3 separate regions of the Homo sapiens genome follow, and all the other regions are linked to region 3. Evidence: fine-mapped expression QTL. A gene starts in region 3. Each other region holds a variant in brackets. All regions are shown on one strand. Distances are from middle to middle. Region 1 overlaps SLC35E3 (solute carrier family 35 member E3). Region 2 has its middle 15 kb from the start of LYZ. Region 3 holds the start of YEATS4 (YEATS domain containing 4).

Region 1 (11,332 bases), 580 kb after region 3:
CATTCCCAAAGTGATTTAAGTTTATATTACAATCACAAATCTTATACTTTCAAAAATAATGCTCTCAATAAACTCATCCTGAATTTTTCTTCCCCAAAGACATCCACATCAGCCACAGCATAAACAAGACTTTCCCACTTTTCCCCTTACTGCTGTGAGTAGCATTCATTCAGTGTCAGCCCCAGGTCTGCCTCTGTTCCCTGTGAATCAACACTCTGTCTAAAAGGCAGGCGTTGGAGGAAACAGACCTCCTTGTCATAGACTGAAGGGCAGCAAACTACATTCCTTCAGCCTTAGGCCTGGTGGAGAAAATGCTTCAAATCACAAGAGAGGTAAGGCTCTCAGAAAAGCATGCAGACATTTTTAAAAATCTTGACTAAAAAGCGTGACTAGCTGGGCGCGGTGGCTCATGCCTATAATCCCAACACTGGGAGGCCGAGGCGGGCAGATCACCTGAGGTCAGGAGTTCGAGACCAGCCTGACCATCATGGAGAAGCCCTGTCTCTACTAAAAATACAAAATTAGCCGGGCATAGTGGTGCATGCCTATAATCCCAGCTACTTGGGTGGCTGAGGCAGGAGAATCGCTTGAACCCAGGAGGCGGAGGTTGCGGTGAGTCCAGATCATGCCATTGCACTCCAGCCTGGGCAACAAGAGTGAAACTCTGTCTCCAAAAAAAAAAAAAAAAAAAAAAGTGTGACTAGGCCAGGCAGGACGGCTCACGCCTGTAATCCCAGCACTTTGAGAGGCCAAGGTGGGCAGATCTCTTGAGCTCAAGGTTTCAAGACTAGACAGGGCAACATGGTGAAACCCCATCTCTACAAACAAAATATAAAAAAATTAGCCAGGTGTGGTGGTGCATGCCTGTAGTCCCAGCTACTTGGGAGGCTGAGGCGGGAGTATCACTTGAGGCTGGGAGGTCGAGGCTGCAGTGAGCCATGTTTGTGCCCCTGCACTCCAGCCTGGGTGACAAAGTAAGACCCTGTCTCAAAAAAATACAAAATAAATTAAAAAGTGTGATTTTAGAAATTGTTAAGATTTAAAAATAAAAATTTTGAGCAAATTTAAATAAAAATATAACTGGTTTGGGATAACCAGATATCCTGCATTTTAGAAATAATGTTAGAAACTGGGGCCAGAGAAGTGGCTTAAAATGTCCCTCTTCATCCCTCCCTCTATGCTTCACAGCATAACCCATATTTATCCACTTATTTTTAATTTAATTTAATTTTACTTTTAGAGTCAGGGTCTCACTTTGTTGCCCAGGCTGGAGTGCAGTGGCACAGTCATGGCTCACTATAACCTCAAACTCCTGGGCTCAGGCAATCCTCTGCCTCATCTTCCCAAGTAGCTGGGACTACAGGTGTCTACCACCATGCCCGGCTAATTTTATAAAATTTTTTATAGAGACGGGGGTCTTGCTGTGTTGCTCAGGTCTTGAACTCCTGGCCTCAAGTGCACCTCCTGCCTTGGCCTCCCAAAACACTGGGATTACAGATGCAGGCCACTGTACCTGGCCCCCATATTTATTAATCACATTTTATTCATTCATTCATTTAACTTTCCTGTGAAGTTTTGCAAATGGCTTCCTCAATTCCCCCTTGTTAAGCTTTTTTTCCTTCTCAAACCATGCTTATATCCTTTCTGGTTCCAGCCACATATTTTGGGTCAGACAGTCCTAGCACTGTACTTTTAATATCACCTGGAGTGACTTCAGAGACTTCTTTGAAGCCACAAGACCATCTGGTTCAATACCAATATTTTGAAATCTAATGACTCACTATTCTAGAACATTCTCAACATTAAGTTTCTTAAAGATGGCTTAAATACTTTTTAAATTTAAATAAATGTACAGAAAACAAAAATCTTTTCATTTAAAACCTACCAAATATAGCCACACATGGTAGGGCATACCTATAGTCCCAGTTACTCAGGAGGCTGAGGCAGGAGGATTACTTGAGCCAAGGAGTTCAGGGCTGCAGTGCACTATGATTGTGCCTGCAAAAAGGCACTGCACTCCAGCGTCGGCCACAGAGAAAGACCTAGTTTTTTGTTTTTGTTTTTGTTTTTGAGACAGAGTCTTGTTCTGTCGCCCAGGCTGGAATGCAGTCTGGAGTGCAGTGGCTCATTGCAACCTCCACCTCCTGGGTTCAAGCAATTCTCCTGCCTCAGCCTCCTGAGTAGCTGGGATTACAGGGGCACACCACCACGCCCAACTAACTTTTGTATTTTTAGTAGAGATGGAGTTTCGCCATGTTGGCCAGGTTGGTCTCAAACTCCTGGGCTCAAGTGATTCACCTACCTTGGCCTCCCAAAGTGCTGGGATTACAGGCGTGAGCCACTGCATCCAGCCATAAGACTCAGTTTCTTTTCTTTTTTTTTTTTGGAGATGGAGTTTTGCTCTTTTGTCCAGGCTGGAGTGAAGTGGTGCGACCATGGTTCACTGCAACCTCTACCCTCCCGGTTCAAGCAATTCTCCTGCCTCAGCCTCCCAAGTAGCTGGGATTATAGGCACCCACTACTACGCCCAGCTAATTTTTGTATTTTTAGTAGAGACGAGGTTTCGCCATGTTGGCTAGGCTGGTCTCAAACTCCTGACCTCAGGTGATCCACCCGCTTCGGCCTTGCAAAGTGCTGAGATTACAGGCATGAGTCACCACGCCTGGCCGGCAAGACCCTGTTTCTAAAAAACAAAATAAAAAATAAATCTTCCAACTATTTATAATATGATCTCTGTTCATCTTTACTGTTATAAACATTCCTCAGGTACTTGAAAGGAGTGTGTGTTCTAGGCTTGTTGAGTACAGATAACCTATTAGACAAGGTTACTAACTTCCCTGCTGCCTGCTCTATCACCTCTATTAGAAGTATTTAAAATCTCAATTTTCCTTTTAATTTTCATGCTGTTTTCTGGGTTGTTCATGATTGCTATGTTTGTGGTGGATTGTTCTTTAAAAAAAAAAATCTTGATCCTATTAACACTTTTTGCCTCAAATTCTATTTTGTCTGCTATTGATATTACTACCCAAAATCCCCGCACCCCGCCCTTTTTTTTGAGACAGGATCTCACTCTGTCACTCAAGCTGGAGTGCAGTTCACCATCACGGTGGCTCATTGCAGCCTCGACCTCCCTGGGCTTGGGTGATCCTCCCACCTCAGCCTCCCGAGTAGCTGGGATCACAGGCACATACCACCATACCTGGCTAATTTTTGTACTTTTTATAGAGACGGGGATTCACCATGTTGGCCAGGCTGGTCTTAAACTCCTGATCTCAAGTGATCCGCCCACCTTGGCCTCCCAAAGTGCTGGGATTATAGGCATGAGCCACCACACCCAGCCGGCAGCAAACTGTTTATGGACTGGTACTGGGGCCCAGACCCTACCTTGAGTGGTACTGGGCTAGAGGACTTATTAATTGCATGATCTAGGAGTAGTTCATAAATTCTGTGATGGTCATTCTTTGGGTGAACTCCATTTCTAGCAGATTCTAGATAAGCAGCATGACTTCCTCTGATTCTCTGACACCTGAGGGTGGGGAAATTCAGACTGTCCCACTTGGGTTGTGCGTCTTCACGCTGGGGAAGAGGGTGAGGCCAAAGTTGTGTTGGGAGATAAATAATGAAATTCAAGAACTCCATGGTAACAGCCCTTGTCTTTCCTCTCTGGGGCCACACAGTGCAGTGTGGGGAGAGGAGTGGACAGAAGGAATGTCAGCATTTCCTTGGCAAAATCTCTTGCGTTTCAGAACAGCAGTGAGATTTTGGAGGTATGAGAGAGTCACAGGTGTGACATTCCTGTGAGGAATGCTATTTGAGTACAAGCAGTGGATGTCCTCATGATGTTATGATTTCAGAAGAATAGCACTGTGCTTGGCTGAAAAGTTCTGCATTCAATAACTCCATGCCAATAAGCAGCCATTTCCTCCCAGCACACAGTTGCTCACCAATGTCCATGGTCCTATGGCACTGGGAGGCCTCTGATGCAGCTGTCTCCCACTATGGTCTTAGGAAATTCCTGGAACGTTATTAGAGTGAGTTTTTCCTAGATCTGCTTACTGAATACCTGTTGAACTTTCACACTGATGGCCAGTTCCAAGACTTAAGCATGACCTTGCGACCATTGGTGATAGTGCTTTCTTGATCTGCTGAATCAAATTGAAGCAGAACTGGGGGTACTACTAGGAATGAGGGGTGACTAGGGATGGGGCTGGGGCGAGGGGTATATTGGGTAACTGAGGATGACCAGTGTCAGAGAGCACAAAGATGATGGTGAAGGGCAGGTAGACCACCTCCCACTTGGTGGGAAAGTCTGTTCCTGGCTGGAACTGGTTCATTCATTCCAAGCCAGCAACAGCTCCAGGTTTGGACGCCATTTATGAATCTACATGCCACCAGACCAGTCCCTGTCTTCCACACACCCCACTCTCTGGAGTCTGGAAAAATGGCGGGGGTGGGGCTAGCTACTAGTTTTTGTTTTTTTTTTTCTTTTTGAGACACAGTTTCATTCTGTCATCCAGGCTGGAGTGCAGTGGCATGATCTCAGCTCACTGCAACCTCCGCCTCCCAGGTTCAAGCGATTCTCGTGCCTTAGCTTTCAGAGTAGCTGGGACTACAGGTGCACACCATCACAGCTGACTAATTTTTCTTTTCTTTTTTTTTTTTTGAGACGGAGTCTCACTCTGTCTCCCAGGCTGGAGTGCAGTGATGTGATCTCAGCTCACTGCAACCTACGTCTCCAGGGTTCATGTGAGTTTCCTGCCTCAGCCTCCTGAGTGAGTAGCTGGGATTACAGGCGCCTGCCACCACGTCCAGCTAATTTTTGTATTTTTAGTAGAGATTGGGTTTCACCATGTTGGCCAGGCTGGTCTCCAACTCCTGACCTCAAGTGATCCACCTGCCTCGGCCTCCCAAATCGCTGGGATTACAGGCGTGAGTCATCATGCCTGGCCTTTTTTTTTTTTTTGTGAGACAGAGTTTTGCTCTTGTCACCCAGGCTGGAGTGTAATGGCATGATCTCGGCTCACTGAAACCTCTGCCAGGCACACGTCACCATGCCCGGCTAATTTTTGTATTTTTGGTAGAAACGGGGTTTCACCATGTTGGCCAGGCTGGTCTCCAACTCCTGACCTCAAGTGATCCTCCTGCCTTGGCCTCCCAAAGTGCTGGGATTACAGGTGTTAGCTACCAAGTCTGGCCTTTTTTTTTTTTTTTTTTTTTTTTTTTTTTTGAGACAGAGTTTCGCTCTTGTCACCCAGGCTGGAGTGTAATAGTGTGATTCCAGCTTACTGCAACCTCTGCCTCTCGGGTTCAAGCCATTCTCCTGCCTCAGCCTCCTGAGCAGCTGGGATTACAGGCACACGCCAGCATGCCTGGCTAATTTTTATATTTTTAGTAGAGACGGGGTTTCACCATGTTGGCCAGGCTGGTCTCGAACTCCTGACCTCAGGTGATCCATCTGCCTCAGCCTCCCAAACTGCTGGGATGACAGGCGTGAGCCACCACGCCAGGCCCTATTTTTATTTTTAACCAGTGCTGTAGTTTGAATATTTGTCTCCTCCAAAACTCATCTGGAAACATCCCCAATGTGGCAATATTGAGAGATGGCGCCTTTAAAAGGTGACTGGGTCATGAAGGCTCTGCCCAGTGAGACTGGTGCCTTTATAAGAAGAGGAAGAGAGACCTGAGCTACCATGCTCAAGTCCCTCACCACGTGAGGCCCTCTGCCACCTTGGGTCTCTGCAGAGAGTTCCCAGGAACAAGAAGTCTCTCACCAGATGTGGACCCTGTACCTTGGACTTCTCAGTCTCCACTATTGTAAGAAATAAATTCCTTTTCTTTATAAATGACCCAGTTTCAGGTATTCTGTTCTATGCAACACAAAATGGACTAAGACAACGAGTACGCTTAGTTGTTGCTTCCTGAGTTCCAAAGTCCGACAGACAGAGCAGGTCCTCCATTCTTGCCCCTTTTTACCCCAAATGCTCATTGGCATTCTTGCAGCTACGAGTAATAATTAAAAGTGGCTAAGCCAGGCTGGCATGGTTGCTCACGCCTGTAATATCAGCACTTTGGGAGGCTGAGGCAGGAGGATCACTTGAACCCAGGAGTGAGACCAGCCAGGGCAACATAGCAACACCCTGTCTCTAATTATTATTATTTTTTTAAGTGAGTAAGCCAAATAGGGGTTTACTTTTCATCTAGAACAAGAAGACGTGTTGGCCAGGCTGGTCTCAAACTACTGGGCTCAAGTGATCCACCCACCTCAGCCTCCCAAAGTGTTGGGATTATGCGTGAGCCACCGCACCTGGCCACAAGACCCAATTTCTTTTATTTTATCTTTTTTTTTTTTTTTTTAAGAGATAGGGCATCTAACGGCATTGTTTTAGCTGCTCAACACTTTTTTTTTTTT[G/TTG]CTTATTTTTGTTTGTTTTGTTTGTTTTTGAGACAGGGTCTCCCTCTGTTGCCCAGCATATAGTGCAGTGGCATGATCATGGCTCACTGCAGCCTCAACCTCCCAGGATCAGGCAATCCTCCTGCTTCAGCTTCCTGAGTAGCTGAGACCACAGGTGCACACCAATATACCTAATTTTTTTTTTTTTGAGATGGAGTTTCACTCTTGTTGCCCAGGCTGGAGTGCAATGGCGTGGTCTCAGCTCACTGCAACCTCTGCCTCCCTGGTTCAAGCGATTCTCCTGTCTCAGCCTGCCGAGTAGCTGGGGTTACAGGCATAAGCCACTACGCCCAGCTAATTTTGTATTTTTAGTAGAGACAGGGTTTCTCCATGTTGGTCAGGCTGGTCTCGAACTCCTGACCTCAGGTGATCCACCCACCTCAGCCTTCCAAAGTGCTGAGATTGCAGGTGTGAACCACTACGCCTGGCCACCTGACTAATTTTTAAGTTATTCACAGAGAACAGGTTTTGCAATGTTGCCCAGGCTGGTCTCAAACTCCTGGGCTCAAATGATCCTCCTCCCTCGGCCTCCCAAAGTGCTGGGGTTACAGGTGTGCCACTGTGCCTGGTCGGCTCACCACTTTCAGATCTGGCTCTCTTCACCTCTCTTTTATAGTCATAAGCTGATTAGCACAATTCTAGACATCCGCAGCTACATTTAAGGCAGGAAGGAGGTGGTAATAGACACTACCAGCCACATCTGTCCCTTTTAATCAGGATACCCTAGAAATCCTCAGCAGACTTTGAATTATGTGCCATTGGTGAAATGTCATATGATCATCCCTCTACAAGGCAACGAGGTAAAAAGAGAATTTAGTATTTCTAGCCTCTAGAGTGGAGATGAACAAAGAATAGGAATGGGCATTTGCTTAGGAAACCAACTGTGCCTTACAACATTTTTGCACTTTTTTCTGTAACATTTTGTGTTAAATCATATAAAAATGCTGATCCTAACAAATATGGTCAATGAGTCACACCATAATTCTCTAAGAACTCCAGTCCAAAAAGGTTAATCTTGCTTTTAAACTCCAGGCGCGGTGTTTCACAGCTGTAATTTTAGCACTTCGGGAGGCAGAGCAAGAGGATCACTTGAGGCCAGGAGTTGGAGACCAGCCTGGCAACATAGCAAGACCCCGTCTCTACAAAAAATAAAATTATCTGGGCCTGTTGGTGCACACCTGTAGTCCCAGCTACTCAGGAGGCTGAGGTGGGAGGATCACTTGAGCCTAGGAATTCGAGGCTGCAGTGAGCTGTGATTGCACCACTGCACTCCAGCCTGGGTGACAGAGGGAGAACCTATCTCCAAAACAAAACAAAATAAAAACAAAACAAAACTCCAAGCAGAGAAAGACTTGACGAGTCGGATGAGTCTGATGATTCCTAAAGGAAATCCTTTTTGAGATTCCAGGAGATTCCATCTCCTCAACAGAGTAATTGATTTTGAGCCTCCCACCTCCTGAATTAAGGCCCACCCATCCCTATCCTGCACTGAACTGTAGACTCTTTTTTACTTCCTTACAAAAGTTTATTCTTAAATGTACAACAGACTCCAAGACGACACTTTATTGTAGCTATAGGTGGCAAAAGATGTTATGGCAGAGAATCCAGATGTTTAAATAGGAATGGGGTCAAGGGTCACCGCCCCAAGCACGGATAACAAAATTTATTTTTTGCCAGATTTCTTTAATTCCACCTGTGACTGGTGAGGGCTGGTGGCGGGGTGGCTTTCACTTTTAGCTCCTCTTTTTGTTTCTGCTTGAACGTCCCATCTTCCTTACCCACCCCCTTGACCTGCTTCTTGAGCTTTCTCAGGGCTTCTTGCCACCTTTGCAGCTGTACATGGCACCTGCCATAGGGCTCTAATTTTAAACTGAGAAATTGAGAAAACAGGAAACTGACTCTTTTTGGGGGGAGAGTAAGACAAACAGGAAAAGGAAAATGAAGACGTGGTTGATACAGATCGTTGGATTTCAAAAGGAAAAGTCTACGGATAACCGAAAAAAATAAATATTTAGAAATGCATAGTCTTGGCTGGTTAAATAAGTATCCATGCTTGTTCTTGTGGCATAGTAGTTACGAGACATTTTTAGTTAAATGGAAAAATGTGAATTACTATAGTTTGAGTGATATGCTGCTTTCCAAATTAAAAGCAGCATAACAAAAACATTCCCCTAATACTCATAAATAATTCATTGAATTGGCAATAATTCACCTCCTAATGACTTCATATGAAGTATAAAGTAACTTCGATACATCAGAAGAAATCCTATCTTCTAATATAAGAAAGTAATATGATTACATTAAATGCGTCTCATATAAGTTATAAAAATGGTATCTATGAGTAAAGAAATGCTTGTGAACAAAAAAATTGATCTTATAAAGGTCAAACAGGCCAGGCGTGGTGGCTCACACCTGTAATCCCAGCACTTTGGGAGGCTGAGGTGGGCGGAGTACCTGAGGTCAGGAGTTCAAGACCAGCCTGGCCAACATGGTGATACCCTGTCTCTACAAAAATACAAAAAATTAGCTGGGCATGATGGTGGGTGCCTGTAATCTCAGCTACTCGGGAGGCAGAGGCGGGAGAATCGCTTGAACCCGGGAGGCGGAGGTTGCAGTGAACTGAGATTGAGCCACAACAACCAAGCCTGGGAGACAGAGGAAACTCTGTCTCAAAAAATAAAAAATAAAAATTAAAATTAAAAAAAAGGTCAAACAAACCAAACCCTTCTGATTAATTTATTCAATCTACTTTTATTATAAGCAAATGAGAAATTATAATTTTAATCTGAAAAAGCAGAATCAGGGGATTTTGGAGCTGGACAGTCCCCTGGAAATTATTTGGATCAAAGCCCTCATTTTATAGGTGAAGAAACTGAGAAGTAAGATTTGAGCAAGCTGCCCAAAGGCTTTGCCAAAGGCTATACCAGTGAATGGCAGAGTCTGGACTGGAAGTCCCAGTGCTGCCGTCCAGGTGAGACCTGTTCCACTGCATGCTACTAGCTCCCGGGCTGAGACCGGACTTTTGCTTGGCAGGTTTCTTTCTTTCGAAACTATTAATTATTGTATTTTTTGTAGAGACAGGGTTTTGCCATGATGCCCAGGCTGGTCTTGAACTCCTGAGCTCAAGAGATCCACCCAGCTTGGCCTCTCAAAAATGTTGGGATTACAGGCATAAGCCACAGTGCCCGGCCCATTTTCCTCCCACCTCTTTGTTCCTTCTCTGTTTCTTTTGCAGCATTATGTTCTATCATTGTATACCAGAGTTCCTCAACTTCAGTTATAGTCTGTTCTTGCTTTATGCTATCTTCTTCAGCAAGCTCATCTTGGTCTGTTTTCCTCCTTATCAGGCATACCCCAGAAACTCCTGTTTTATCTCCACCTCAACTAAACATTTTCCTGAGTTCTGGGCCTCTATAAACTAATTATTTGATTAACATCTTTTTTTTTTTTTTCTGAGATAGAGTCTCTCTCTGTCACCCAGGCTGGAGTGCAGTGGTGCAATCTCAGATCACTGCAGCTTCTGCCTCCCAGATTCAAGCGATTCTCCTGCCTCAGCCTCCTAAGTAGCTGGGATTATAGGCATGCACCACCGCACACAGCTAATTTTTGTACTTTTAGTAGAGACGGGGTTTCACCATGTTGGTCAGGCTGGTCTCAAACTCCTGATCTGAAGTGATCTGACTGCCTCAGCTTCCCAAAGTGCTGGGATTACAAGCCTGAGCCACCATGCCTGGCCAACATCTTTAATTGGATATCTCAGTATCAAGAAGGCCCATAATATTCCTCTGCCTCATCCCTCTCCTCAGTCCTCTTCTTGTGTTTCCTAGTTCAGAGAATGGCACCATTCTCTATCAAGCTGCGCAAATCAGACATGTGTGATTTTTTGTTGTTGTTGAGACAGGGACTCACTCTGTCACCCAGGCTAGAGTGCAGTGGCGTGATCATGGCGCACTGAAGCCTCAAACTCCTGGGCTCAGGAGATCCTCCCGCCTCAGCCTCCTGAGTAGCTGGGACCACAGGCCCACACCACCATGCCCAGCTAATTTTGTATTCTTTGTAGAGATGGGGTTTCATCATGTTTGCCCAGGCTGGTCTCGAACTCCTGGACTCAAGCAATCCACCCACCTCAGCCTCCCAAAGTGCTGGGATTACAGGCATGAGCCACTGTGCCCAGCTGAAGTGTGATCCTTAACTTCACCCCTTCTCATGCCCTCCATTTCCAATCCATCTCCAGTCCAGTTGACTCCAGCTACTCAATTATTTCCACTTATCTCATTCCACTACCTTTGAAGCTACCACCATCTCTAACTACAGTCATCTCCCAACTAACTGGTCTCCTGGCATCTCTCTGGTTCTCCTCCACTAATTTCAAAAAAAGAAATTTACTGTGACAGTGCTCACAACACTCCCCCTTGCTCTTACTAAAGATGCTTACCATAGCCTCCAGGTATTGTATGGCCTGAGGTCTATCTACATTTCCAGGTGCAGGACACACCATGTCTCCCCACTCCCAAATTTAGTCTCCAGACTCCATCCTTTTTACAGTTCTTTAAAAGCATCACAATTCCTCCAACCACTAGGCATTTGTATGTGCTATTCCCTCTTTCCAGAATGCAATACCCTCCCTCTGCCTAGCTAGCTAACTTCTATGTATCTATGACTGCAGCTCAAACTTTCCTCATGGACTCCCTCCACAAGTGCCAAGCCTGGGCCAGATTCTTTTGTTATGTGCTCACAGAACGATGTTCCCTTTAGCATTCATTGAGTTTGCTGTTTAATTATTCTTGTCTTGTTTTTGTTTAATTAGTCCTATCTCTAATACTAGACAAATGTTCCTTAAGATCACAGGAAATATAGGACTGTCTCTACATAAAAACTGTTTTA
Region 2 (9,076 bases), 26 kb after region 3:
TTTAACTTCCTATTAACGATGATTTGCATATACACATTTACTTGAAGATGATGCTGGTCTCTCTTTTGGCATCACTCTAAGTTGTTTTGGGTGCAGCTACACTATCTTATTCTTTCCTCCCTCACTCCCCCAACTCTAGTACACAATACCTCTGTGAGGTGGCTGTTTGCCAGCATGGAAATACTCTATTTCCAACTCCAGTACACAATACCTCTGTGAGGTAGCTGGTTGCCAGCATGGAAATACTCTATTTCCACCTCAGTCAAGTAGAAACTGAACCCACAAATGTAGTGCCATTTACACCCAGGCCTTGCAATCAAGTCAGCCTGACCCAAAGAGGATAAGGGCTGGTATCAGTGTCTCACACATCTATTTTGTGTGGGTTTTTTTAGTTCCAGAAACACTGTGTTGAGATCACACATTTATTTTAGAAAATAATTTCCTTGACTGCTGTTTCAAACTGACATGTAATTGAAGACTAACAGTAAATTAGAAATGTTATTTTAAAAATAGGATGCTAAACCCTAATCTGCTACTACTTGACTACTAATTTTTGTGAAAACAAAGGGAGTAAAATAAACCTAAACACATAAAAACTACACTTAGAATTATCATATCTATGTAAGGAATTCAATCACACTGCAAGTTAAATCTCCTCTGTGGAGTGTAGCATCTATTTTAGACCTGAATTTCATGTATGGACTTCATGATAACTTCATGTTAGTACATGGCTTTCTTACTAATCCCCTTAACTCCAGGTTTTCTCTCTTCTGACCCACTCCACACCCAGAACGTGCCATTCTTGAACTCAGAGGACTTAGTGTTAAAAACACACATATGTCATTACATATCATCTATGACTTCATTTTCTATTATTGTTTGCTGTTGTATTGTCTTTATAACTGCTATCATGAGCTTTTCGAGGGCTTATGCTCCTTTAAACCTTTGCTTCTGCCTTCCCAGTAAGAAACCTTCACTTGTACAATGTAACCACTCAACAAATTTGGTAAAGTCACTGTATAAAAAATACATCCCACCTACAATTAAATTGTTGCTCTTCTCTTCTGAACATGTGTTTTAAAACAGGATTCTGACGTTACATATGATGCAATGAAGTAACACAAAGTTCTAAATAAAAGCCAACCACAAACTACAGAGGAATGTGTTTTTTTAATTATTAGAAAATAATTACAAAATATAGCTTAGAGTTAAAAAAAGAGAGAGAATAGTTTTTATTTATTTATTTAATTTTTTTTTTTTTGAGATGGAGTCTCGCTCTGTCACCCAGGCTGGAATACAGTGGCACAATCTCAGCTCACTGCAACTTCCGCCTCCTGGATTCAAGCAATTCTCCTGCCTCAACTTCCCTGAGTAGCTGGGATTACAGGCGCCCACCACCATGCCCAGCTAATTTTTGTATTTTTTAGTAGGGACAGGTTTCACCAGGCCAGGATGGTCTCAAACTCCTGACCTCAAGTGATCCGCCCACCTCAGCCTCCCAAAGTGCTGGGATTATAGGTATGATCCACCATGTGAGCTACTGTGCCTGGCCGAGAGAATAATTTTTAAAAATACACAGTTAACTTAGCCCTCTGGAATACATTAGAAATAAGACCATATGTTTGAGGCACAGGATTTCTCATACCAATCTGGGTAGAAACTATTTGAAGGTATGATTCAATACTTCATTTAAAGTTAATAGGGGATTGGGTGCCATGGCTCACACCTGTAATCCCAGCTCTTTGGGAGGCCGAGGTGGGCAAATCGTGTAAGCCCAGGAGTTCGAGACCAGCCTGGGCAACATGGCAAAACCCCATCTCTACAAAAAATACAAATAATTAGCCGGGCGTGGTAGCATGCGCCTTAGTCCCAGCTACTCGGGAGGCTGAGGCAAGAGGATTGCTTGAGCCCAGGAGGAACAGAGGTTGCAATGAGCTGAGATTGTACCACTGCACTCCAGCCAGGGTGACACAGAGAGACCCTGTCTCAAAAAAAAAAAAAAAAATTTAATATGGACAAAAAAATTCCACTTTCATTGCTAAGAACACTATAATTTTATTATAGAATAAGGTCCTGTATAACATTTGGTTACAAAGTTTAAGAATTTATCTATTCATTAGTTCAATATAATAAAAGTTTTTTTTTAATCGAGACAGACAGGGTCTTATTGCCCAGACTGAAGTACAGTGGCGTGATCATAGTTCACTGCAGTCTCAACCTCCTGGGCTCAAGGGATCCTCCTGCCTCAACCTCCTGAGTAGCTGGGACTACAGGTGCACCACCAGCACACCCAGCTGATTTCTCATTTTTTGTAGAGATAGGGTCTCACTACGTTGCCCAGACTGGTCTCAAACTCCTGGGCTCAAGCAATCCTCCCATCTCAGTGTCCCAAAGTGCTGGGATTACAGGTGTGAGCCACTGCGCCCAGCCAAGAATAAAAATTGACTGAATATTTTTCTATGTAAGAGGCACTGTATTGATGCTGAGGATACCAAGGTGAAAAAACATGGTTGTTTTCTTCTACAGAACATGCAAACCAACAATTATAATCCAATGTAATAGTTTTAATGGTGATAGCTACAAAGTGATGATGGAGCATGGAGGGAACCTGAAGTCTGTCTGGAAGAGATGGTGAACGCTTCATAGAATTTCAGCTGAATGAGAATTGGGGGAAGAATAGAATTTTGTTTAGTGGACAAGTGGGGTAGAAGACTTGTGGTAGAAACTTCCAATACTCACCCATATCTAGTTCCCTCTCCTTCCAGGCACAGAGGAGGATTATACTTCCCTGTCCCCTTGTAGAGTTAGGCGGAGTGATGTAGCTAAGTCTAGGCAATGAGCTATGGGTAGAAATGTCATTTCTAAGCTGAAACATTTAACTGCTGGTGCAAAACACTCCAGTGCTCTTACTTTTCCTTGGCAACTGATGAAGTTGTATGTTTCAGAAAGTGTAGCTAGCTACCTGATGGTGGAACCTCCGGCAGCCTGAGCGTCTGAGTGACTATGTGGAGCAGAGCCACTTGCTAAACTGTGATAGGCATTTTGGAATGAATAAGGAATAAAATGCGTGTTAAGCCACTGACATTTTGAAATTGTGTTATTTCAGCATTCCAGGTAGAGGTAAACATATTTAAAAATAAAAGAAAGGAAGAATAGACAAATCTTCCATGCAGGAGAATTTCAAGTACTTTATGTAGATACTCTGCCCTCAAGGAAGTATTGAGGCTGTGCATAGTGACTTCCTTCCAAAGAATACAGTATGGAAACGAGGGAAAAGAATAATTTCACAGGAGAGAAACCTGACAAATTCTACTTCAGTCAGTAGATCAATGTTAACATCAACAGTGATAAGCCACATTGATAAGTATGCATCCTTGATATGATGTGATGAAAATGGTATTTGCCTCTGTGGTCTTTCTCTCCAAAACATATAACCCCAGTCTCACCATAAGAAAAACATCAGACAAACCTCAAATGAAGATTATTCTACAAAATACCTGATGAGTACTCAAAACTGCCAAGCTCATCAAAACAAGGAAATTC[T/C]GAGAAACTGTCACAGCCAAGAGAAGCCAGAAGAGATACAACAACAAAATGTTATATGCCACCCTGGATAGGATCCTGTAACAGAAAAGGGGCATTAGGTAAAAACTAAAAAATCTGAATAGAGTATGAACTTTAGCTAATAATAACATATCAATATTGGTTCATTAATTGTAACAAAGGTACCTTATTGATGTAAGATGTTAGTAATAAGGGAAAGTGGGTGTGGGGAATACAGAAATGAACTGTCTTATCTTCAGGATTTTTTTGTAAATCTCAAACTATGCTGAAATTAAAAGTTTATTTAAAAATAAACACTGCCTCGGCAACATAGTGAGATTCTGTCTCTTAAAAAAAAAATTGGCCAGGCATGATGTTACATGCCTGTAGTCCTAGCTACTCTGGAAGCTGAGGTAGGAGGATCACCTGAGCTCACGAGGTAGCGCCATCATTGTGCCACTGCACTCACTCCAGCCTGGGTTGCAGAAGGAATCTCTGTCTCAAAAAAAAATAAAAATAAAAAATAAAATAAAAAAAGAAAAGAAAGGAAAAAAGGTATAAGAAAGAATATGGTATGCTGTGGAAGTTCCTTTCAAAGTAGAAAGTGGAAGTGAAGAGCTTGGCTGGGTAAATGAAGAATCTTTTATGCTATTAAAAGGAAATTCCATTTTTATTGTATAGGTTAGGTGAAGGATCCCTAGAAGATCTATGGATAGGCTTCAGAGGTGTTGCTAAACCTCCAAAATTATATAAAATTATATTGCATATTTTTCTCAGAAGAAAGTAAAAAGCTTTATTATTTATTCTCAAAAGTATAAGTACCTAAAATAGGTTAATAATCACTGCTGAAGGCAATGTAAAAACTGAAGTCTTCCGAGTAAAAGGAATGACACAATTGTATTTTTTTGTGTGCCAAAAAGGACCATAGATCACTTTTTGCTAGGACAGACTAAAGTGATTTGGTGTGTGTGGGGGTGTGTGCGTGTTTGGAGAAGGAAGGCCAAAATGAAAGGCAAGATGATAATAAAGACAGTGATCTTCAAACTTTTGAACGTGGTACATTTTGCAAGGGGAGAAAACTGTTGGGATTCACTCAGGATGGTGGCAGAAAGAATAAAGGGAAATATTAGGGAAAGTTATAGGAAATAGTCACAAACCTTTTAGAAGGCCGAAAGTTTACATAGCTTGTAATAATTGAACAGGCCAAGGCGGCCAGTTCTTACCTTAGAGCATTAGGTCATAGGGTAAATACAAGGGACAACAGAGGCTTCCCCAGTTAAGTCTGTTTACCCAACTTCAATTAACTAACCTTTGAGCCAGATGGCCTTCTCTGGGGAGGTCTACCAAGGATATTGCCCCCTAATGGTATTTGTTACACGCGTCCCTGTGAAGAGACCACCAAACAGGCTTTGTGTGAGTAACAAGGCTGTTTATTTCACCTGGGTGCAGGTGGGCTAAGTCTGAAGAGAGTCAGCAAAGGGTGGTGGATTATCATTAGTTCTTAAAGGTTTTGGGATAGGCGGTGGAGTTAGGAGCAATGTTTTGTGGGCAGGGGGTGGATCTCACAAAGTACATTCTCAAGGGTGGGGAGAACTACAAAGAACCTTCTTAAGGGTGGGGAGATTACAAAGAACCTTCTTAAGGGTTGGTGAGATTACAAAGTACATTGATCAGTTAGGGTGGGGCAGAAACAAATCACTGTGGTGGAATGTCATCAGTTAAGGCTATTTTCACTTCTTTTGTGGATCTTCAGTTGCTTCAGGCCATCTGGCTTAGCTTGGGCTGAGAGGCCTGATAGTATTTACCTGAGACCGTGGTACCTGAGTTTTAATCATTCCTAGAACTACTCTCTTAACCATGTTAATTATCCACAAGTGTGTTTACTCAAGTTTACTCAAAGTGTGTTTACTCAAGTTTACTCAAAGCTTCTGTTGTTAATTGTATACTAAATAAATGCCTGGAGTTCGAGCTGCTCAGGGCCGTCCACAGTGACAAACCTCTCTAGGTGTGCAGGCGGCTGGACACTCAGCTGGACTGGCAAAACAGAATATCTGTGTGTCAGTGTACGTTTTATTCATCTGTCGTTTGGGTCAGGGTCTGAGGGCAGACCCCGCGGCTAATGCCTTCACGTGTGAGGAGCAATACCTCAGCTGGTGGCCTGTGTGAGGAAACCCGTGTGAGGAAAGCCCTGTGAGGAAAGCCGTGTGAGGCCAGTCAGGGGTCTGCAGAAACAGACTCCCCGCAGTTGGAGCCCCTCCTGAGGCAAGCTGCCTAGGAAGAGTGAGGACTGCCCTCATGAGGAAAGCTGCGAAGGAAGCGTGAAGGAAAAGCGACGGACCCCCCGGAAAACAAAGGTGAAGAAAGGAACCGCGCGGTCAAGTCAGTGAGTAATCAGCAAGTCATTGGTGCCCACTCAAAGTTACCAAGTTCTGGGGGAAGTTGGGTCAAGCTGAGTTTTCATCATGGGACCACAGTTATTAGCACAGCAGAAACATTATATGAAAGTATTAAAACAGTTACTTAAGGCTAGCGGAGCCTCAGTTTCACAGGCTCAATTAAGGGACCTAATCATCCATGCTAGACAAACTGTTGCAATGCAAACTCTTGTGATCCCAAGCCCGTGGTTCCCGGAAGAAGGAACGCTAGACGTAGAACTCTGGGAACAAATGGGGAGAAATCTTAACATGTGCAAAGGCAACAGGTCCCAGTAACAGCTTTAACGTTATAGGCTTTAATTAGAGCAGCCTTAGCTCTGTTACACGCAGAAGAGCCTAAAAAGAGCAAGGAGGAGAAAATGTCACCTGCCTTATCACCTCCTCTTCCCTCCACCCTAATATCACCGGGCCGAAATAACAGAGGAAACGGGGGTTTATACCTGAGCCTCCTCCTCCAATAGATAGGAAAAAAGACCTAGGATATGCTACAGCTATCAGTCCCTGTCTTAAGCGGGCAGCATTAGAAGCAGAGCTCTTACTCTGCCCAGTAATGCAGAATCGGCAAGGCAATCAGGTGTATGTTTATAAAAAGATAAGAAAAAAGGCATTAGGAGCCGAAAGCCGTGCAGCCGAGCAAGCAGTAAATAAAAAGAAAGGCTCGGCAGCCCGGAAGTTCACAGAAACAGAGCCAGCACAGGCAAAAGGCAGCGCTTTTACAAGAGTAAAACAGCTACCGCCCAGGGACCCGCCGGCTCAGCTCTCTAGCTCTGCAGGTGACCCAAGGCAAGTGCTCCTTGTTTACAAGCGACATCCCAGATTATAATTCTCTGCTAAAATTTAAGTAAAATGTAAGAATTTGAAAAACCTCTTTTCTGATAATGGCCACTGTTGCTCTCTCTCTCCTACCCCTGACGTAGCTCTCCAAATCCAATTTAGGTAAAACAGTAACCTCTGAAGGGAGAGAGATTACAGAAGGCCGATGAATTAGTTAAAGAGTAGTTAAAAGCTAGGCATGTAAAACCACACATTACCCTTTAAAGGAGAACTTTAAACCTAACTAAATCATATTTGTTAAATTAGAAGAAAAGTTGTATGTAAGTGTAGTGAAAGCATATGCATGAATGACTGTCGTAACCCACTGATTAGATAGTCTTTTGATTTCTACTTGCTAAAAGAGTCCTGAATTCAGTTTCCCAACTACTGGGTCACTGTTTTCAAGACTGTTGGCCAGATTAAAGTCCATAAACTTGATCAGCTTGAAAACTCAATTGCAAGATTTAAGCTGTTCTGCCTGTGGCTTTAAGCACATGGTTAAAGTATATTATTTAAGTTTCTGCTTCTAGAGATGCTTTCAGATTTTCTTTTTAAATTTCATGTTACTTATTTCAACTTGCCATCTTAATGATTAATGCAGTCAATTGCTAAGTTATAACCCTGATATCATCAGGATTCCTTTAAGTAAAAGGTAATTCGAAGCGGTATTGCACTTCCCCATACCTAATGCTTTAACACTGTTTACTGATGGGTCTGGTAAACATGGAAAAGCGGCAGTCTAGTAGAGACCACACAATTCCATCACTCAGAGTTTACTAGCACTCAGAGAGCTGAGGTTACTCTGTTTATTTATTAAAGAACTTTTACAGCATGAAGTTAGCTCTGGAGACCACTCTGTGTGCTCTTTTTCTCCGACTTCAGCAATTGCTACACCAACGTACACATCCTGTTTTTATTACACACATTCGAGCCCACAGCTCTCTGCCTGGCCCATTGGCTTATGGCAATGATCAAGCAGCTCTTCAGGTTGTAACATCACTGCTAGACCAAGCCACCCAATTGCATCAATTTTTCTACTAAAATTAGAGAAACTCATCTTAAACAACTTCAACTTATACAGAGATTGGCTAAACAAATTATCTGACGGTGCCCAGATTGCCAGCTCACAGGCACAGCCCCTCTTTCAACAGGTGTTAACCCTAGAGGATTGGAACCTAATCAGTTGTGGCAAACAGATGTTACATCCCTAAATTTGGGAAACTAAGATATATACATGTATCCGTTAATACCAACACTCACCTAATTAGTGCACATTAAAAAGAGAAATAAAGGGAAAGAATGAGTAAGAAAGAGACTAGAAAAGACAGATCAGAGACAGACACAAAAAGACTAAGGAGAGAAAGTAGGAAGAAAGGAAAGAAATATTAAAGTTACAGATATAAGAATGCACCTTTAGTAAGGAAGGTTATAAAACATAGTCAGAAAGTTAAGCCATGTTAAAGATTGTCTGTGAAAGTTGTGAAGAATGTTATGAAAAGGAATTTATGCAGGAAATATATAATTTTTGTTTTGAAGGTCTAAACAAGTTTTAAAACGTTAATTGTAAAAAAAATTCTGTGTGTAAACATATTGGCTAAAATAAAAAAGGTATCATCCAGTTTTTCTGTAAACTAGACATTAAAGTACAACAAGTTTTTCTTAAAACACTAACCTGCTCTTTAAAGACTGTAAAAAGTCTCTCAGCACAGGCACCACCCCTAGAATTTCCAGTACACCAGCACCAGCCTGGAGACTACATTCTTATCAAAGGATGGAAAGAAGAAAAAACTCAAGCCAGCCTGAGAAAAGACATACAGGACCCGCAGCCTCAACAATGTGGCTTCCGAAGACAACACAGGTCCCAGGCATTATGCTAAAGAAGGAAAAGTCTAAGCCAGATAATTTATTCATTTTAAATTCTCTCACTTTACCTACTACCTATACCTGCTACACTCTATTAAGCTCATCCCTTAAATCTGCCTTTTTTCAGTCCTATCATCTAGGCAGACACTCCCTTTCCAGCTTCTAACAATATCTACGTGTCAATGTATGTTTTATTCTTCTGTCATTTGGGTCAGGGTCTGAGGGCAGACCCCTGCAGCTAATGCCCTCAAGTGTGAGGAGCAATACCTCAGAAAACTATCCCAAAACCTACTTTACTCCACCTGTTGCTACTTTTCTGAGGAAAAAGTACTGAGTAATTATGATGAACTGTCACTTAAAAAGTCAAGTTTGGTTGAATTATATACATCTACTTTAGCATTATGCTTATGAATATTAACATCTGA
Region 3 (8,867 bases):
TTACTATAAAAAATTACAGGTTGTCGGCCGGGCGCGGTGGCTCACGCCTGTAATCCCAGCACTTTGGGAGGCCGAGGCGGGTGGATCACGAGGTCAGGAGATTGAGACCATCCTGGCTAACATGGTGAAACCCCGTCTCTACCAAAAAATACAAAAAATTAGCCGGGCGTGGTGGCGGGCGCCTGTAGTCCCAGCTACTCGGGAGGCTGAGGCAGGAGAATGGCGTGAACCCGGGAGGCGGAGCTTGCAGTGAGCTGAGATCGCGCCACTGCACTCCAGCCTGGGCGACAGAGCAAGACTCCATCTCAAAAAAAAAAAAAAAAAAAAAAAAAAAACTACAGGTTGTCTTTAAGCAAAACAAATTACAGACAACTTTAAGTAAAACAGTTACAGAAAAAACGAGTGCCTACCTCATTTCTATATGGTTTCACATATACTGTCCACTGATGAGTGTGCCCATCTTCTTCTCTTTTCTTTCCAAAATACCGAGCAACATTACCGTAAACTATTGGTTTAACGATAGTAACACCCTAAAAGAAAAATAATTTTAAAATAAATGAATATTGTACCATTAGCTAAATATGCAGAATAAGAGCTCTGAAAACTTGCTTTAAAGAATGGCAGGCTAACAATCTATAGTTTGCTTATAATATGGATTTCTCTCAAATCAATTTCAGACACATCCTTTCATATTAACACAAAAAACGCCAGAATAATTACAATGTTCCCTCTTTGAAAATGCTTTTATTTAAATTACCATGTAAAGCGCTTTTAGAGTGTTGTTAAAAGAAATGCAAAAGGCCTTTTCTTAAACACCTGAAAGCTAGGCATTGAAATAAAAATGGCCAATTCTGACTGGCATCACCTGTGGCAATGTCCTTATCACCTAGCCTGTGGCAGTGTTTCCCAAAGTATAGTATAAATATTAGGAGTAATTTGTGAGAGGTAGAATAAAGGTCAAACATTTTTCACTTTTTTACTTACGTGTTTAATCAGTATTAAAAAATAGTAATAACTGTAACTAGAAATTAAAACCTACAATTTCACCAAGGTGGGTGGATCACCTGAGGTCAGAGGTTCAAGACCAGCCTGGCCAAGATGGTGAAACCCCACCTCTACTAAAAATACAAAAATTAGCTGGGCTTGGTGGTGTGCATCTGTAATCCCAGCTACTTGGGAGGCTGAAGCAGGAGAATTGCTTGAACCTGGGAGGCAGAGGTTGCAGTGAGCCGAGATCATACCATTGCACTCCAGCCTGGGCAACAGAGCGAGCCTCTGTCTCCAAAAAAAAAAAAAAAAAAAAACAACCAAACACCCTACAATTTAAAAAACATTAACGCTTAGAAAGAGGCTTTTAAAAAATAAACTGATTTAAATGTAAATGTTACAATAAATATTACAGTTGAATTCAGACATGGCAAAAATGGCCAAGAGTCACTTGGATGACTGAAGCTTGGTAAATAGTGGCTGATGACATGTTTGCTACATTTGTCCTTAGTTTAACATACATATTTCTTATATCTGATAAGTGCAAAGGCAGTGCGTATTGACAGATTATGTTGGAAAGATAAAAAATTTCAATTGAAGTGAAAATATTGAATGTTGCACATGAATCTGAAACCAATGGCTCAGTTACAGAAATGTATCTGAAGAACAATGAGCAAGATTTACCACATGTGAAAAGTGCTGAGTGAATGTAACCAACAACAATAAAAATGAAGAAAAGCGGCCAGGCACGGTGGCTCACGCCTGTAATCCCAGCACTTTGGGAGGCCGAGGCGGGCAGATCACCCGAGGTCGGGAGTTCGAGACCAGCCTGACCAACACGGAGAAGCCCCCGTCTCTACTAAAAATACAAAATTAGCTGGGCATGGTGGCGCATGCCTGTAATTCCAGCTATTCAGGAGGCTGAGGCAGGAGAATCGCTTGGAGGCAGGAGAATCGCTTGAATCCAGGAGGTGGAGGTTGCGGAGAGCCGAGATTGCGCTAGTGCACTCCAGCCTGGGCAACAAGAGCAAAACTCCGTCTCAAAAAAAAACAAAACAAAACACACACACACACACACACACACACACATAAGTATTTTAAAACCTACTAATTATTGCTATTTTTTTTTTAAAGAAACATTGTCTTGCTCTGTCGCCCAGGCTAGAGTGCAGTGGCACGATCTCAGCTCACTGCAACTTCCGCCTCTCGGGTTCAAGCGATTTTCCTGCCTCAGCCCCTCTAGTAGCTGGGATTACAGGTGCCCGCCACCACGCCCGGCTAATTTTTGTATATTTAGTAGAGACGGGGTTTCACCATGTTGACCAGCCTGGTCTTGAACTTCTGATCTCAGGTGATCCACCCTCCTCGGCCTTCCAAAGTGCTGGGATTACAGGCGTGAGCCACCTTGCCCGGCCCTGCACGTTAATTTTTAAGGCAGGACCCACTGGCTCCTGATAAAAACAACTATTTGTACCCCTTCTGATTTTTATTTATAAAGGAAAGGAAATTTTTCTTTAAAAAGAATGAACCACGGCTGGGCGCGGTGGCTCACGCCTGTAATCCCAGCACTTTGGGAGGCCGAGGTTGCAGTGAGCCGAGATCGTGCCATTGCGCTCCAGCCTGGGCAACAAGACAGACACTTCGTCTCAAAAAAAAAAAAAAATTAACGTGCCAGGGGCTGTGTGAGGGAAATAAATATTACAATGTCAAACATTACGCTAGGGTCTATGGTAATTTCATCAAAAACAAAAGAAGTTGACATTTACTGAATGTTCCCCATGTGCCAGGCACAGTGTTATGCTCTTGCTTTGAGGCTTTGTGAACACCATGAACTCCAGCAAATTTTCTTAGCTTTCGTATGCCTCGGTGTCTCAGTTACCGCACTTGGAAATACTGCGGGTAAGCGCTCAGCGACTGTTTGCTACAGTTATTGTTATCCTCACACCAGGAGGGTGGCGTCACCGCTTCACCAATAACCTAGATTGGCAGCGAATGTGCACCAAGCTGAGCTTTCCCAGCCCTCGGAGTCGCCCGTTTCCTTGGCAGCCACGTCCGGGTTTCCCCAAGCCACCATTTATCTGTTTGTTTTTTGGCGGGGGTGGGAGTTGGCAGTGACGCGAGGAAGTTGGGGCCCAATGAACGCCGGTTTTTCGCTCAATGGCTCTGACTCGCTCTCCAACCTGAAACCACGGTTCAAACCCGAGGAGAAAAGGCGCGAAAGGAAACCCAGTGGGCCCTCCCCGCGCCGCGCAGGGAGGAACCGAGGCGGGAGAGCCACCCCGGAAGAGGGGCGGTCCGGGCACTGACCTTTACTCTCCCGCCGGAGTCAGGCCCAAATTCGGCCATTCTCTTGAACATATTGTCCCACGGAAGAAGCCGCCGCCGCCAGGGAAAGAGACCGGGGCTGGCGGGGTCGCCGCTCCCCTCAGAGACCGCGCTCCTGTCGCGCGGGCCCAGGCGGAGGGTTTCTAGCCGAAGGAGGGCGAGTTACTTGGGCTCACGGCGGTGAGTAACCGTCAACTCCTCAGGCCGACTGTGCTCCTGAAGGCCATTCAGGCCCGCGCAGGTGGAGAACGCCGCGAAAAGAGGGGCGACGGCCGCACCGCGCGCAGGCGCAACGGGCTCGCGTATGCGCACGCAGTGTACACTGCGCACGCGCCTGGCGGCTGCAGTCACATCACAGGACCAGTGCAGGAGTTCCAAACCAAAAAAAAAATGAAAGGCAGGAAATAATAAATGACTTCAAAAAGTTGTCCAGATGTTAAGGAGATGAGTTTCCACACTGAAAGATCCTACTAAGCACCCAGCACAAATATTAAAGCATCCACGTCAAGGCATATCATTGTGAATTTTCTGAACATCGAGGAAAAAGAGATCCCACACCCTTCCAGGTTATACAGACTATAGAATCAGAGTGGCTTCAGATTGCTCAGTTAGAATCTAGGAAGCCATACGGCACTGTCTTCAAAACTCTGAGGGAAAATTACTTCCGATTTAGTCTTCAATACTCATCCAACTACCAATCTAGTGTGTGAATAGAATAGAGTTTCAGATGTGCTAAATCACTACACACAAAAAATAGTACCTATCTTACCTTTCTCAGTACCTCCAGGAAGATCCTGTAGATCTGATCCACCAAAATGAGGGAATAAGCCAAGAAGGAGGAAATTATGAAATGCAGGAAATACAATAAATAACAAACACAGAAAATAGTAAGATCCCAAGATGATACTGAAAGAGCTCCGGGAACAATAGCTGTGTATAGGCATAGACGGCAACGCATCTAGATTAGATTCGGTCAGAAATCTTTGGGAGACACTGCTTCAGAAGGATGGGATTGACAAAATTCCAGCTGGCGTTGAATCAAGAGGAGATTTGACCGAGAGTTTGGAGTTTAACTCATGACAGGTACACAGAAAACTAAGCGGCTGTAAGAATTATGCAGCTATTAATTCTAGGGAAAACAAAATCTTGTGCAAGAAAGGAAAGTAATTGTATTTATTGTTACATAAATACTGAGTATTGGCCGGGCGCGGTGGCTCACGCCTGTAATCCCAGCACTTTGGGAGGCCAAGGTGGGCGGATCACGAGGTCAGGAGATCGAGACCATCCTGGCTAACACGGTGAAAACCCGTCTCTACTAAAAATACAAAAAAATTAGCCGAGCGTGGTGGTGGGCGCCTGTAGTCCCAGCTGCTTGGGAGGCTGAGGCAGAAGAATGGCGTGAACCCGGGAGGCGGAGCTTGCCTTGAGCCGAGATCGCACCACTGCACTCCAGCCTGGGTGACAGAGCAAGACTCCGTCTCAAAAAAAAAAAAAAAACAAAACAAAAAAAAACTGAGTATTGATCCCCCCTCCCCCTCAAAAAAAGAATTACATTTAGAAGGATGGGCTTTGGAGAAGGGTACTATGCTTGATGGGGATGGAGGAGGAGGAAATAGAGCTTAATCTTTAACTTCCATAGTAGGAAGTCAGTATCTTAAAATGGAAAAATCAAGAAGAAGCAATATAGGTGTAATATTGAAAAGCATGGAGATAAATATTTTAAAAAATAAGCTAAAAGAGTAGAAAATACTGCTGATTGTAATTTTTAGTAATTCCACTTAACAACTGTAAAGAAAATACTTTTTAAAAGACTTCACTAAATAGAAGTGCAAGGGATGTGCTCAGGGCTTAGTTATATTAGTGCCACATGAAGAGCTCAATTGTCATATGGATGTCACTGCATTTCAACCAAGATAGGAACTGAGTTTCTTTGAAAATGATCAAACATTGATATTGATTTTTATTCTGTTGCCAGAATAAGAGTAGAAATTTGGTTTGGGGGCGTAATTATATTTAAAACAATTGGTATGACTAAGAAATATTTATCAAAAACTAAAGCAAAATCTCCAACAAACATTGCTTTCCCTCTTCAGTCTACTTTGTCTAATCTCTGGCAGTTTCCTCAATCAGCCTGTGTTGTTGGGTTATCCTGGCACTTCTTGGACATGTCCTATCTCTGTTTCTCAGCTGTCACTCTTCAACTCTCTCTCCGCTACCTTGACTCATCCTTTGTACACCTCAGGGTATCTCGATATGCATAAACTCATTCGTTTTTAGTTTAATCACGTCAGAATGGTCCAAGAATTTTGAAGCCAAAGGTTGCACCTATGTAGTGGCCCTCTGCTGCCCTCACATGGCTAGTCTATGTGCTGCATTTACATAGCCAAGAAGTGGCTTGGAACCCCGCAAGCGGTTGTACTGGAATCATGTGGCCTTGAAGAGTTAATTAAAAAAAAAAAAAAAAAAAAAAAAAGGCTGGGCGCGGTGGCTCGCGCCTGTAATCCCAGCACTTTGGGAGGCCAAGGCGGGCGGATTACGAGGTCAGGAGATCGATCTCCTGACATGGTGAAACCCCCTCTCTACTAAAAATACAAAAATGAGCTAGGCGTGGTGGCGAGTACCTGTAGTCCCAACTACTCGGGAGGCTGAGGCAGGAGAATCGCTTGAACCCAGGAGGCGGACGTTGCAGTGAGCTGAGATCGCGCCACTGCAGTCCAGCCTGGGTGACAGAGCGAGACTCCGTCTCAAAAACAAAAAGCTTAGAATGTTCAGTTTGGAGGGAACATACTAAATAATCAGCAAGAGATTTATTCGATCAACTGATATTGATTGAGCATGTACCATGTTCCAGTCACTCTTCTAGGTGTTTAGAATACAGAAGTGGAATGAGTGAAAAATTTCTATTCTTCCTATCAGGACAGTGGTTCAGCATATTATAAAATCAGAGATGTATCATGGTAAGGAGGGTGTCCAGGTGTTGGGGAAGGAAGCAACCCACTGAGGGATGTCAGAGCCTGAGTGGAGAGCACTTGGGCAGAGTTGGGGAATTGGTTACATACAGGCAAACCCATCAAATACGTAAATGTACTAAGGATACATTTTAAGGATAATGAGTATAATGGATGCTAAGTTACTTACTGTCAGAGAAGAGAGTTAAAACATGCGAAAGAAGAAAACTAGAGTGAATCCTGTGGTGTGAGATTAGAATTGGAGATATTGGTGTGGATTCATGATTTTCAATATAAATAGATAGATATAGAGATAAATATAGTGTAAATACATATATCTTCCAGCTCTGTTCACTGATAGGGCCTGGAAACAGTGATACCCTAGTGCCCAGATCCTGTTTTTTTAATACTATTATGCACTTTGAGGAATCAGGGCTCCTTGGAGAAATGCCTTTTCCATTTTTGGAAGCAAGGAAGGAACAAGGTGAGCCTTAGAATATCTTGTGCCAGAAAACAAGAAAGTGCTTGAAGAATGATGGAAATATGTCGAAATGGCACAGAAGACAACTTGCAGGGGCTCACTGGCCAAATCGAGGACAGTGTGAACATCAAAATAAATAATAGTAATGGACTATAACTCCTTATGATTTGAATAAAATAGAAGCCATGGGTCCATACTGATATAATAAATAAATGCATGACCAGGCACGGTGGTTCACACCTGTAATCCAGCACCTGGGAGGCCAAGGCAGGCAGATTGCTTGAGCTCAGGAGTTCCAGACAAGCCTGGGCAACATGGCAAAACCCCATCTCTACTAAAAATACAAAAATTAGCCAGGCATGGTAACGCGTGCGAGTAGTCCCAGCTACTCAGGAGGCTGACGCGGGAGGATTGCATAAGCCTGGGAGGCAGAGGTTGCAGTGAGCTGAGATCGCGCCACTGCACTCCAGCCTAGGCGACAGAGTGAAATCCTGCCTCTAAATAAATAAACAAACAAACTGAAAATTTGATGAGCAGTAGTCTCAAGGCACCTCCTCCCCAAATACTTTACAGTGAAGATGGCTTGCAGGCCTCACCTTAATCAAGTGATCCAAGTGAACATCATCAATAATGGGGCAAATCAAAACTGCAAAAACTGAATGCCACCTGAAAGGATGCAGTGAGAACATCACTTCTGTGGTATTCCTACCAAAGATGCATAACTTAATGGAATCGAGAGAACACCAGAAAAACCTTAGGTACATTCTATAACATAACTAGTCTGTGGTCTTCAAAAGTGGCAAGGTCATAAAAAGTCCAGAAAGAAACAACTGAGGAAATAATCCAGATTCAAAGAGACTTAAAAAACATGACAACCAAATACAATATGATTCTGAATTAGATGCTTTTGTTATGAAGGTCTTATTGGGACAATCGATGAAATTGAGTGGAATCTGATGACTAGGTGGTAGTAATGTATCAGTGTTAATTTCCTAATTTGGATAATTGTTTTGAGGTTTTATGCAGGAGAATGTCTTTATAGGAATTACACACTGATGTAATCAGGGCCATTGGGTATCATGTTGGCTATTTACTCTCAAAACAGTTCTGAAAAATAAAAGATCTTTGTACAGTACTTTTATATTTTTTAAAAGATTGAGTTTATTTCAATGTTTTTTTAAAAAGTGGAAAAACCTCTGTCATTTTGGAAGTTATATTTTGGTGAGAAGAGACAAATAAGTAAAATATGTAGTATATAAAATTATTATAGACTTGAGCCCTGAGGCACTCTCACATTTAGAAATTAAATAGCAGAGAAAGAGTGAGCAAGAAGGACTGAGAAAGAACAGTCAGTGAGGTAGGATGTAAATAAGGAAAAGCCAAGGGATTAAAAAACTGCTAAAAGTATGAAGCGGTTCACTTTGTCAAATGCTGCTGAGATGAACAAGATGATCACTGGAATTAGCACTGAGGAATCATGGGAGAAATCCTGGAGGAGCAGTTTCAGCTGGGTGAGGATAGAAGCCAGATTAGAGAGGGTTGAAAAGACACTGGGAGGTGAGGTCATGGAGTTGGTAAGTACAGACATACTTCCCCAGAAGTCTTGCTGTAAAGGGAGCAGAGAATGGAGTTGCAGTTGGAGGATTATGTAGGGTCAGTGGAGTATTTGTTGTAAGATGGAAGGTTACTAGGGCAGACTGTAGAATGATGGAGGTGATCCAGCTAAAAGGGACAAACTAGGGATGCAGGAAACAGCCTGACTTGGAGTAGTGAGAGGGATGGGAGGGAAACTGCATGTGGAGTCAGTGCTGTTGGCAGGAGCAGAGGCTCTTCATCCTGATAATAGGAGGGAAGGAAGGAAGGATGGGCCTGTGGGAAGGTATGACTGCTGCTTTGGGATGTAGAAGGGAAAGCTTGGTATGAAGTTGCTTTTGTTTTAGAAGTGTAATATGAGGCCAGGTTATCTGCTGAGAGCAGAGGAGGGTGGAGGATAAGGGGGCAGAGGAGGAGGCTGAATGTGTGTCTTGAGGCTTTGAAGAGAGAAGAGGAAAAGTAAAATAGTAACAGTCATTTTGGAGACTAGGGACATAAAAATGGAAGGATTGTAGAGAAGTAACTAAAATGGT

Evidence for each region. PIP is the estimated chance that this variant, and not a neighbour inherited with it, causes the effect.
Region 1: its variant is fine-mapped to the expression of YEATS4 in monocytes after LPS (Kim-Hellmuth 2017, PIP 0.95).
Region 2: its variant is fine-mapped to the expression of YEATS4 in whole blood (TOPMed, PIP above 0.99).

The regions. Positions count from the first base shown.
Region 1 is chr12:68,769,844-68,781,175 of GRCh38, reverse strand. SLC35E3 (solute carrier family 35 member E3) reads right to left here. Exons shown (of 5, transcript NM_018656.5): 5 at 1-11,332. It also overlaps the pseudogene LOC100422438. Among named protein-coding and RNA genes, the nearest start is that of SLC35E3, 29 kb to the right of the region's middle. The variant G/TTG (reference allele first, on the strand shown) is at 6,410.
Region 2 is chr12:69,328,749-69,337,824 of GRCh38, reverse strand. No RefSeq gene overlaps it. Among named protein-coding and RNA genes, the nearest start is that of LYZ, 15 kb to the left of the region's middle. RefSeq lists enhancers at 4,941-5,655, 6,496-6,655. The variant T/C (reference allele first, on the strand shown) is at 3,544.
Region 3 is chr12:69,354,451-69,363,317 of GRCh38, reverse strand. It overlaps YEATS4 (YEATS domain containing 4), which reads right to left and starts at 3,575. Exons shown (of 7, transcript NM_006530.4): 1 at 3,295-3,575; 2 at 411-530. The coding sequence starts at 3,345. RefSeq lists a silencer at 3,041-3,200 and enhancers at 2,626-3,227, 3,481-3,670, 3,228-3,831.